Linked DNA regions of Homo sapiens. The protein of the gene in region 1 purifies or fractionates together with the protein of each later gene. This does not show direct contact. Each region holds a gene or a part of one and is shown on either strand. Other genes may lie near its edges. The genes, in order: TSNAXIP1, USO1 and LZTFL1.

Evidence for each region.
Region 2: the proteins of TSNAXIP1 (region 1) and USO1 purify together in Homo sapiens (affinity purification with mass spectrometry; one large-scale study listed by BioGRID and IntAct). This does not show direct contact.
Region 3: the proteins of TSNAXIP1 (region 1) and LZTFL1 purify together in Homo sapiens (affinity purification with mass spectrometry; one large-scale study listed by BioGRID and IntAct). This does not show direct contact.

The regions. Positions count from the first base shown.
Region 1 is NC_000016.10:67,823,757-67,826,253, forward strand, and holds part of TSNAXIP1 (translin-associated factor X-interacting protein 1), read left to right. Parts: intron 1-826; coding exon 827-1,023; intron 1,024-1,380; coding exon 1,381-1,516; intron 1,517-1,910; coding exon 1,911-2,080; exon of another isoform or gene 2,081-2,139; coding exon of another isoform or gene 2,140-2,160; coding exon 2,161-2,320; coding exon of another isoform or gene 2,321-2,395; coding exon 2,396-2,497. UniProt on the Homo sapiens protein: Possible role in spermatogenesis.
Region 2 is NC_000004.12:75,727,497-75,731,153, forward strand, and holds part of USO1 (general vesicular transport factor p115), read left to right. Parts: intron 1-3,657. UniProt on the Homo sapiens protein: General vesicular transport factor required for intercisternal transport in the Golgi stack; it is required for transcytotic fusion and/or subsequent binding of the vesicles to the target membrane.
Region 3 is NC_000003.12:45,825,069-45,828,725, reverse strand, and holds part of LZTFL1 (leucine zipper transcription factor-like protein 1), read left to right. Parts: intron 1-110; coding exon 111-287; intron 288-1,266; coding exon 1,267-1,370; intron 1,371-2,393; coding exon 2,394-2,412; 3' UTR 2,413-3,657. UniProt on the Homo sapiens protein: Regulates ciliary localization of the BBSome complex. Together with the BBSome complex, controls SMO ciliary trafficking and contributes to the sonic hedgehog (SHH) pathway regulation. May play a role in neurite outgrowth. May have tumor suppressor function.

The DNA.
Region 1 (2,497 bases):
CCTGTAATCCCAGCACTTTAGGAGGCCGAGGCGGTAGATCACTTGAGGTCAGGAGTTTGAGACCAGCCTGGCCAACATGGTGAAACCCTGTCTCTAGTAAAAACACAAAAAAATTAGCTGCGCATGGTGGCACACACCTGTAATCCCAGCTACTTGGGAGACTGAGGCAGGAGAATTGCTTGAACCTAGGAGGTGGAGGTTGCAGTGAGTTGAGATCACACCACCGCACTCCAGCCTGGGCAAAAGAACAAGACTCCATCGCAAAAAAAAAAAAAAAAAAAGAATGCAGCTCCCCTCCTTGTCCCAGCCTGGAAGGGGTGGAGAAGATCCTATTCGACCTTCTGGTGCTCCACAGCAGGGCTGGGGCAGCTACCAACTGGGCCTTGAGGTCACCAAGGCCCCTCAGCCATTCTGCACAGACTGTTCCATGATAGGGCACCCCAGAGCACCTGACAACACCTGTCATTGAGAAGCACAGGGGGGCAGTCCCTGTTGAAAATGGAGTGAACCCCAGGAGAGAGTCAGCACCTCTGGGAGTCAGCAGGCTCCCCTGCCAGGCTCAGGAGGTGCAGGGCATGGTGCAGCTGCAGGACTTAAGGCTGTAGGGGAAAGGACATAGGAGAGACCCCGGTCTTCATCTGAACTCTGCCCTTTGTTTAAAATCAAGTGCAGGAAGGCCTGAAACAGGGACCATGGCTTTGAACAAGGCATGCAGAGATTCTTGGGGTTTGCAAGCGACATAGCCACTCACCCATGACCTTAGGGTGTCTTCTGGCTGTTTGTTCTCCATGGCCCCAAAGCAGCTCTCCCACCTGTCTCTGCTTAGCCCACCAAAGGGAGAAGATTCGGGCTCTGGAGCCCCTGAAGGCCAAGCTTGTCACTGTGAATGAGGACTGCAATGAGAGGATCCTGGCCATGAGAGCTGAGGAGAAATATGAAATCTCCCTGCTCAAGAAAGAGAAGATGAACTTGCTAAAACTCATCGACAAAAAGAATGAGGAGAAGATTTCATTGCAGAGCGAGGTGAATGGAAGTGGTGTGATGATGACCAAGTCCCCGAATTCCTGCCAACTCCACGACAAGGGTGACCCCCTACCCTGCTCTGCCTTTCTACGGAGAGTGACACACTGAGCCACCACCTTCCCCCAGAGCCTTGCTAACTCCACCCTCTGCCCTGCTGCTAGGCTCAGTACTTTCCCCACAGGGGGAAACATTGGCACCTTGCCGAATTCTCAGAAATGGCCAATCTCCTTCTTCTTTCACCTTTCCTGTTCACAGTCCCTGATGGGGCCCCCCAGAACCCAGCCCACTCCCTGGGGTGACCAGCTGCATACAGGGGTCCAGGGGCAGCCCCTGACCACACAGCCACCTTCTTGCCAGGTGACCAAACTGAGGAAGAACTTGGCTGAGGAGTACCTGCACTACCTCAGTGAGCGAGATGCCTGTAAGATCCTCATCGCAGACCTGAATGAGCTGCGGTACCAGCGGGAGGACATGTCATTAGCCCAGTCGCCAGGTAAGCCTGAATTGGGAATCGGGTTTCTCTCTTCTCTGAGACGCTGGAAGACTCTGGTCTCACCCCTAAGCCCCATTCATTCAGCATTCCTAAGACCTGCTCATTCCATAACCATTCAGAGGGGAGATGTCCCTGCCTCCCGCAGGGCTGTGTATCTTCTGAGTTGAACTGAGAATTGTAGGAACACAGTTGGTAGCTGAGGCAGCCTAGGCTCCCAGTGGGCTGGACAGGCCTGGTACTCAGTTTCCTGGGCTTCTAGACTTTAGCCTGAAACCCTAGGCTGGTAGTGCTGTGGGCAAGAACCAGGGAACCCCAAACAGGAAGGGCAGAGGGCTTCAGGCAACCCCTGAGAAAGCCACGGTGACACGGGCTGGTGGGCCCCTTCCCCTGGCAGGCATCTGGGGGGAGGACCCTGTGAAGTTAACCCTGGCTCTTAAGATGACCCGGCAAGACCTGACCCGCACGCAGATGGAACTCAACAACATGAAGGCCAACTTTGGAGATGTGGTCCCCAGGAGGGACTTTGAAATGCAGGAGAAGACCAACAAGGATCTTCAGGAGCAGGTGCTGGCAGGCAGGCAGGGCCAGGAGGGTAGGACGGGGTCTCACAGGTGGGGGGCCAGGGCCAATGTCCTTGCCCACAGCTGGACACCCTGAGAGCCAGCTACGAGGAGGTTCGCAAGGAGCATGAGATCCTCATGCAGCTGCACATGAGCACGCTGAAGGAACGGGACCAATTCTTCTCTGAGCTGCAGGAGATCCAGCGCACTTCCACGCCGCGGCCTGACTGGACCAAGTGCAAAGGTGAGGGCAGCCGGCAGGGCCCCAGGTCCTGCTTACATGTGGGCCCAGACTCCAGCTCCCTCTCCCCACATGCAGATGTGGTGGCTGGGGGCCCAGAGCGCTGGCAGATGCTGGCTGAGGGCAAGAACAGCGACCAGCTGGTGGACGTGCTCCTGGAAGAGATTGGTTCGGGGCTGC
Region 2 (3,657 bases), on another chromosome or scaffold:
TGAATAAAATTTGTTTCACTATTTCGTTCCACCAGGAAGTACAACAGGTAAAAGGGGTCATGGATTACTAATTTAGAAGTATTTATAGAGCATCAGTGGAGTGTATATACAATTTTAGATGTTTTAATTGATGATTTAGTCTGGCCAGGATATTTGAGTTACCAGAGCTTGGAACCCCTAGCTTCTATATTATCATTTATTATTTTGTAGTTTTTTCCATTTCTGCAAAATTAAATTTTTTTCATGGTGGCTTTCCATCTTTCTTGCTTTTTCTAACATCTTTTTTCCAATGGAAGGGCTCTTTTCTTTGTCTGAATTAGACCTGTTATTTAAATTCATCATCAGCGCCTCCCCTAATCTGTACTTTCCCCCAGCACGTTTCAGATGCTTTTTCCTTTCTGAGCTACCTTTACATTTTAACTACAGTGTGCATATATCTTATTCCTTCTAGACTCTTAAAGTGTCTTTAGGGCAGGGTTCATAATGTATTTTAATCTTTGTTTTTCCACAGTAGTAGATGCCCAGTAAATACTTGTGAAATGAATTAATTATAGTTTTATTTGAAAGAAATCACAGATCTGTAATTATAGCAACTTACGTTACTAGGTACTAAAACACTTTTTAAAGACTAGAAACTGAAGTTCTCAAATGAAGTTCATTGTGTCAAGCTTTTTACTTAAGGGATTTTTTCATATTTACTAAATGCTTTGACTGCTTTCTTGTTTTTTTTTTTCTTATTGAATTTAAGTATCTTTTAAATGTGTGAGAGTTATGTGATTGATTGTATAGTATCTAGCTTTTCATACTCTTAGTTAAGAGTAACTTTGGACTGATATTAAGATGTTCTTCAGGCCGGGGGCTCACGCCTATAATCCCAGCACTTTGGGAGGCCAAGGCAGATGGAGCACTTGAGGTCAGGAGTTTGAGACCAGCCTGGCCAAACTCCTTTCTGGAGTCAAGCACATTTTTATGGTGAAACCCTGTCTCTACTAAAAATACAAAAATTAGCTGGGCATGGTGGCACATGCCTATAATCTCAGCTACTCAGGAGGCTGAGGCAGGAGAATCGAGGCGGTGGTTGGCAGTGAGCAACCACTGAGTGGTTAAGATTGTGCCACTGCATTCCAGCCTGGGCGAGAGAGCGAGACTGTCTCAAAAAGAAAGATGTTCTTGAGAACCTGTCAAGTAGTAAATATTTTATCATAGGATAGTCAATTCTATAAAGTACTGGATATTTTAAATTCAGAATTTCATCCACATTAAACTTTTTCTGTTTTAGAGTCATGTACTTTTGTTTTTGTTTTTGTTTTGTTTTGTTTTGAGACAGAGTCTCGCTCTGTGGCCCAGGCTGGAGTGCAGTGGCGCAATCTTGGCTCACTGCAAGCTCCCCCTCCCGGGTTCACGCCATTCTTCTGCCTCAGCCTCCCAAGTAGCTGGGACTACAGGTGTCTGCCACCACACCGGCTAATTTTTGTATTTTTAGTGGAGATGGGGTTTCACCGTGTTAACCAGGATGGTCTCGATCTCCTGACTTCGTGATCCGCCTGCCTTGGCCTCCCAAAGTGCTGGAATTACAGGTGTGAGCCACGGCACCTGGCCCCAGAGTCGGGTACTTTTACATTTCATTTCTCTTTTTTACTTGACACTGATTTCTGGTGATTGAAGCCTCTTTAGCCTTGACACAGTTTGCTGGGTGCATATTATTATAGTACAAATCCTACTCATGCTTTTGTTTTTTAGTTTTCTCTTTTTCCCTAACCACTAGACCACCAGGGACTTCATGCTTTTGAATGTAAGCTTATGTGTGCTTAGTGTTATATCTGCCTTCTATCTAGCACCTTTTTTTTGGGTAGGGGGGTGGGGTACGAAGTCTCGCTCTGTCGCCCAGGCTGGAGTGCAGTGACGTAATCTCGGCTCACTGCAGCCTCCGCCTCCTGGGTTCAAGCAGTTCTCCTGGCTCAGTCTCCCGAGCAGCTGGGACTACAGGTGCACGCCACCACGCCAGGCTAATTTTTTTGTATTTTAGTAGAGACAGGGTTGCACTGTGATGCCCAGGCTGGTCTTGAACTCCTGAGCTCAGGCAGTCTGCCCGCCTCGGCCTCTCAAAGTGCTAGGATTATAGGCGTGAGCCACTGCGCCCAGCCCCCAACTTGTACCTTTTTTAAAGCTAGTTTCTTGAAAATTCCAAGCAAGTGTTAACTACATTTGATGATGAATCATAGAGGCATTTTCTGTTCTCAAGTTGGACCCCGAGACATGAAAGTTGCTAATGTCCAGAAAAAGCATACAGAATTAGAACATTGTTATGGGGTCTCTTTCCAGATCAAACTTTCATCAGCTGTCTCAGAAAGCAGAAGGGCTAACAATATAAACACAGCCATATTTTCTTTTAATAAAAATTGTTATTAAAGAGTGTGGACTTAAATTTAGACATAGTTTTCGTTTAGTCAAGCACATTTTATACCATGTTACTATAAATGTGTAGTCTGAAATTCCTATTTGGGTTGATGTATTCTACATTAATAACCAGGTCAATGTCATAACTGGAATGTGTTTTCTCTCTTGGCCTGTTTTGCAATAACAATGTCGGAGAGAACTGTAATAATGATTTGTGTTTTGGTCATTTCTATATCGAAGCACTCTTTTTAAGTAGGGCCTATTGAATACTACATGGCTTTTTGGAAGGTTAATTTTGTAGATTATATAGGGTTCATTTAAAAGTTAGAATCATTTAAATTATACATGCCGTAGCATTACCAAGGTATGCTTCAAAAAATTTGAATAGATGTCCATGAAAAAAATTTTGTCAGCAAAGAAGTGTGTGCAACGACCACTAACAAAGAAAAAACCTCTAGTATTTATGCAAGGTTTTGTAAGCAGGCACTGTGTTATAGTTTCAGATATTTTTAAAATGTAGATAAAAAGTAAGCTGTTTGCCAAATTTATCTGACCAGACCTTTTTTTTTCCTCTAGGGAACTTTGTTATCTATTATTTTGAGAAGCATACTTAGGGAAAAATTGTCCAAGAGGATATATAATTCTGATGCCTTTTTCTTTATTTTCCTTTATTTCATTAAAAACATTACTCTTGAATCTGATTAGGAAAGAATATTAGAATTCCTTATATACATTTGTTGATACCAAATACTGTTCCTCTTTCTTTTTATGTATTTACCTTTTATTATTAATATTACTGCTTTGTACTCTGCTTTTTGTCTGTTGTAGGTATAGTAAAGTTATGCTTATTATTTTTATACCTCAAGCAGAAGTGCCATAAACATTTTTTGTGTCAAAAGTTATTCACCATTAATTTGAAAACTTTTTTTTTTTTTTAAAGAGACAGGCTCACAATATGTTGCCCAGGCTGGTCTTGAACTCCTGGCCTCAAACAATCCTCCTGTCAGCTTCCCAAAGTGCTGGGATTACAGAAAAACTTTTGTGGTGTTAGATTTTGAGATGCTAGCATTTGTGATAGGTTATTTGGTAGACATGTTTCATTATGACCCCTTGCTTAAAACGATGTCCTTTTGAAAAGCATAGTTCATTTATGGGAAAGAGCATGGAGAATAAATGAAGCAGTATATTACTTGGCTGACTTAAGGTAACTATAATGGAAATGGATTCATTGGATTTGTCTACAAAGAGACTTGTGTTTGA
Region 3 (3,657 bases), on another chromosome or scaffold:
ACAAAACATACATCATTTTTTTCATCTCCTATGATGTTGAATCACCATTCTAAAACAGTTATTTTTAGAATATCAACATGAAATTACATGCATGCATTTATTTTTCATAGGATTTTATAAAGGCCCAAGACTTAAGTAACTTAGAAAACACTGTCGCTGCCTTAAAGAGTGAGTTTCAGAAGACACTTAATGACAAGACAGAAAACCAGAAGTCACTGGAGGAGAATCTGGCGACAGCCAAGCACGATCTACTCAGGGTTCAGGAGCAGCTGCACATGGCTGAAAAGGTCAGAAGACCATGTTTAAGGGATTTGTCTGTTAATGCATGATTAATGCACACAGTATAGAGGAATACATGTGGCTAAGATAAACGTTGGACAACTGCAAATTCAGATTATTTTTTCTCAAGGTATTAGCCAATATGTTCTAAAGATTAATCATTTCCGGGCACTGATATTCTTCCATCTTTGGTACTAAAATATCTGTGATAATAAGACATCTCCTCTCCCTCTATGGTGTAGTGAAATGCTCCTCTGTAGGTGGCTTGAATCCTGCCCTACATCCCACCATGTTGCTCTTCTGCTCCTTCTTCCCACAGCCTGCAGAGGGATGAGGGACTGTTTTTTTTAAGGACTTCTATACTTTTGTCATAATTTATATAAAATATGTAGAGAGCTAGATTCTTCACTTTGGGGATTAGACTCTTAAGAATATGGGAGTTGAGGCCGGGTGCAGTGGCTTGTGCCTGTAATCCCAGCACTTTGGGAGGCCAAGATGGCAGGATTGCTTGAGCCCAGGAGTTCAAGACCAGCCTGGCCAACATAGCAAGACCCCCATCTCTATAAAAAAATTAAAAATTTTTTCATATAAAAAATGGGAAAAAAGAATATGGGAGCTAAAATTTAACTAAATTAAAAATCATTTTGCTAAAATACACTACTATGGGACTTGGGAAAAAAGTGTGCTTATTTTACAGGAAAATTAGTTTAATATTTCAAATAGATTTATCATATCCAGGGCTTGAGTTATTTACCAACACTGTACTTGGGAAAATGTTACTATTTTATGGCTTCTCATTTGAAAGAATATATTTTTAAAGTTTGGATAGTCTTAGTTTTATATAAATGTGTCCTTTAAGGAAATTAGAAAATCATTAGCAAAATACTAGTAAAATTCAAGCAAAAAAAACTACATATTTTTATCGCATTTGTTATCTCTTTCCTTAACTATTTTTTTAGTAATGGGCTGACATTTTTTACTAAGCAGGAATTAGAAAAGAAATTTCAGCAAACAGCAGCTTATCGAAACATGAAAGAGATTCTTACCAAGAAGAATGACCAAATCAAAGATCTGAGGAAAAGACTGGCACAGTAAGCCACACTGATCCCGCCTTTGGATTTCTCTCTCTGGATTGATGTTTGTTCTCTGTTAAATCTAAGCTTGTTCCAGAGAGGTCAAGCCGGTGGTAGTTGCTGGATCATTTAGTCCAGAAGCCTTCATTTGAGGAAAGTGGAGGAGCTCTGGCCTGACCTTATCTATAATGCCCACCAGGGCTTCTTTTTAGGTTCATCTAGGCCTTTAGACTCACACAGGCCTACAGTAAGCTGCTCTTGGCAATGGATTCACTTAGCAGGATGTCAGACAGGAAACACAGCAAGCTCGCAGGGCAGCATTAGGTAGTTCTCTTCTCCTTGGTGGTATACTCTAAGCAGTCCAAGAACTGGTCTTACTGTTCCCCTAAATGACAGTTTAAGTTGGAGAGAATGAGATTCATGCAGATGGGTGTCATAGCCAGCTTGGCTTAGAAGTCCGTGTTCTACATAGGATTAGTATCTCTCTTAGCAGTCACATGATACCCAGTTAAGGGTATGTCCAGTTAAAAGAACTCATCGCACAGGGGGAAACCTAAAGTGGTGGCTCCCACCATGTATTTATAGTTCATTCATAGTCCTCCAGGTCCAGATGTGGTCATCAGATGTTTTGCCTGGAAACTGAGTTGACATTTTACCTTTATCAGAGTTCCAGGGGAGCAGAGCTAGAAAGGGAATTCAAGGTGAGATTTGTCCTTAGAGAAGTAGATTTGCTAGCCCTTTACTCATATAGTCGTATCAACTGTTCTTGTCAACATGATGATTGAGGTAATTATATGAAGTTATCACAGGTCTAAATGCCAAATATACAGACTTGGAGCCTTAGCAGTGATCTGGCCTATCCTCCTACCTGATGTAAAAATCCCCTCTGAGTCACCATCAAAACAAAGTTGAATGTGTCCAACTTCTACCGTAACAGTAATTTGAAGTGAGAAATATAGTGCCACTGCTTCAAGTAAACTTATTTGGTAATAACAACAACAAAAGGTATCCTGACATTGTGTTCTTAATTTATATCTCCAGATATGAACCTGAAGATTAAAACTGAAGATTTCCTCTGGAAGCTACCACATGCAAACATACAAGCAGTCTCACCTCAGGCATGTATTTTGAAAAGCATTTTGTCATATCCCCTCTCCTTATTTTTCTAATATTTAGACTTTGAATATTTAGAACTAGAGTTCCTATTTTCAGCTAGTTGAAAACAGAGAAAACCTAGTGATTCTGTCTGGTCATCCCACACACCTCTCTACTGAGTGCTCCAGAGTCTTAGCTCACATGCACTGAGAATTCTTTACAGCAAAGAAGAGATTTTTAGAGTGGGAAGAAGAGGCTTATCCTTCTGCATTAGTATAAAGAGTCTGTATTTTTAATAAATGTTAAATAAGCTAACAATGTTTGTACTTATGCATTCCCCATGGGTAAAAATAAATAATAGCATTGTTAAAGATAGTTATTACCAAAAAAAGAGAGTTATTACAAATAAATATGTCTCTTTATTTTTAAAAATGAAATCTTAATTCATTTACTCTATTTGATGATAAACTATAAATTCATTGAAAATGTGAATTCTATTATGGGTAGCCTTTTTACCAATTATAAGGAAAATTTACAGCAGTGAACATGAACATTCACTTAGCTTCCTCAGTCTCTCCATCTTAAAGATCATTTATCAGAGGAGGTTCAGCATTTTTTGCAGCATAACTTTTCATGAGTCTGTATTACTAATGGATAAGTCAAATCCATCCTGCACTTCTACAGTTTAGAAAGTATCTGGACTCAGAATAAATGTAATATTTATACTTGTTTCCAGAATGTTATTTTACATTTTATGTTCAATAAGAACACTTTTTAAAAGACGTATATTCAACATAAAATCAGCTATCAGACTTCAGATTAGACTTTATTTATGTGGGTCTATAATAATTGTATTTTCAAGAGGTTTTCACTATATTTGTATTGGCCTGGTTTTCTCAGACGATTTTGGACAAATCATTAGAAACTGGGCATCATATCCACAGTTATGTAAGGCAGTGATATACTATAAGGATAAACAAAGTCAAGTCCATAAAGCAATAATCCCTCAGAAGGAAAGTCCTTACTTTTCACATATTAATATTTAGTAATTTTTCCTGCTTCTAAAAGTGAGAGTATCACACCCTAAATGAACACTGTCTACTAAGAGACATCATTCCATTTCCACAAATGAAGATTTTATTCCAAGAAACGAGTTTACTGATTGGAGCATAGGGCTTGTTGTTATTTTTATTCAAGCTTTTAGTAATAG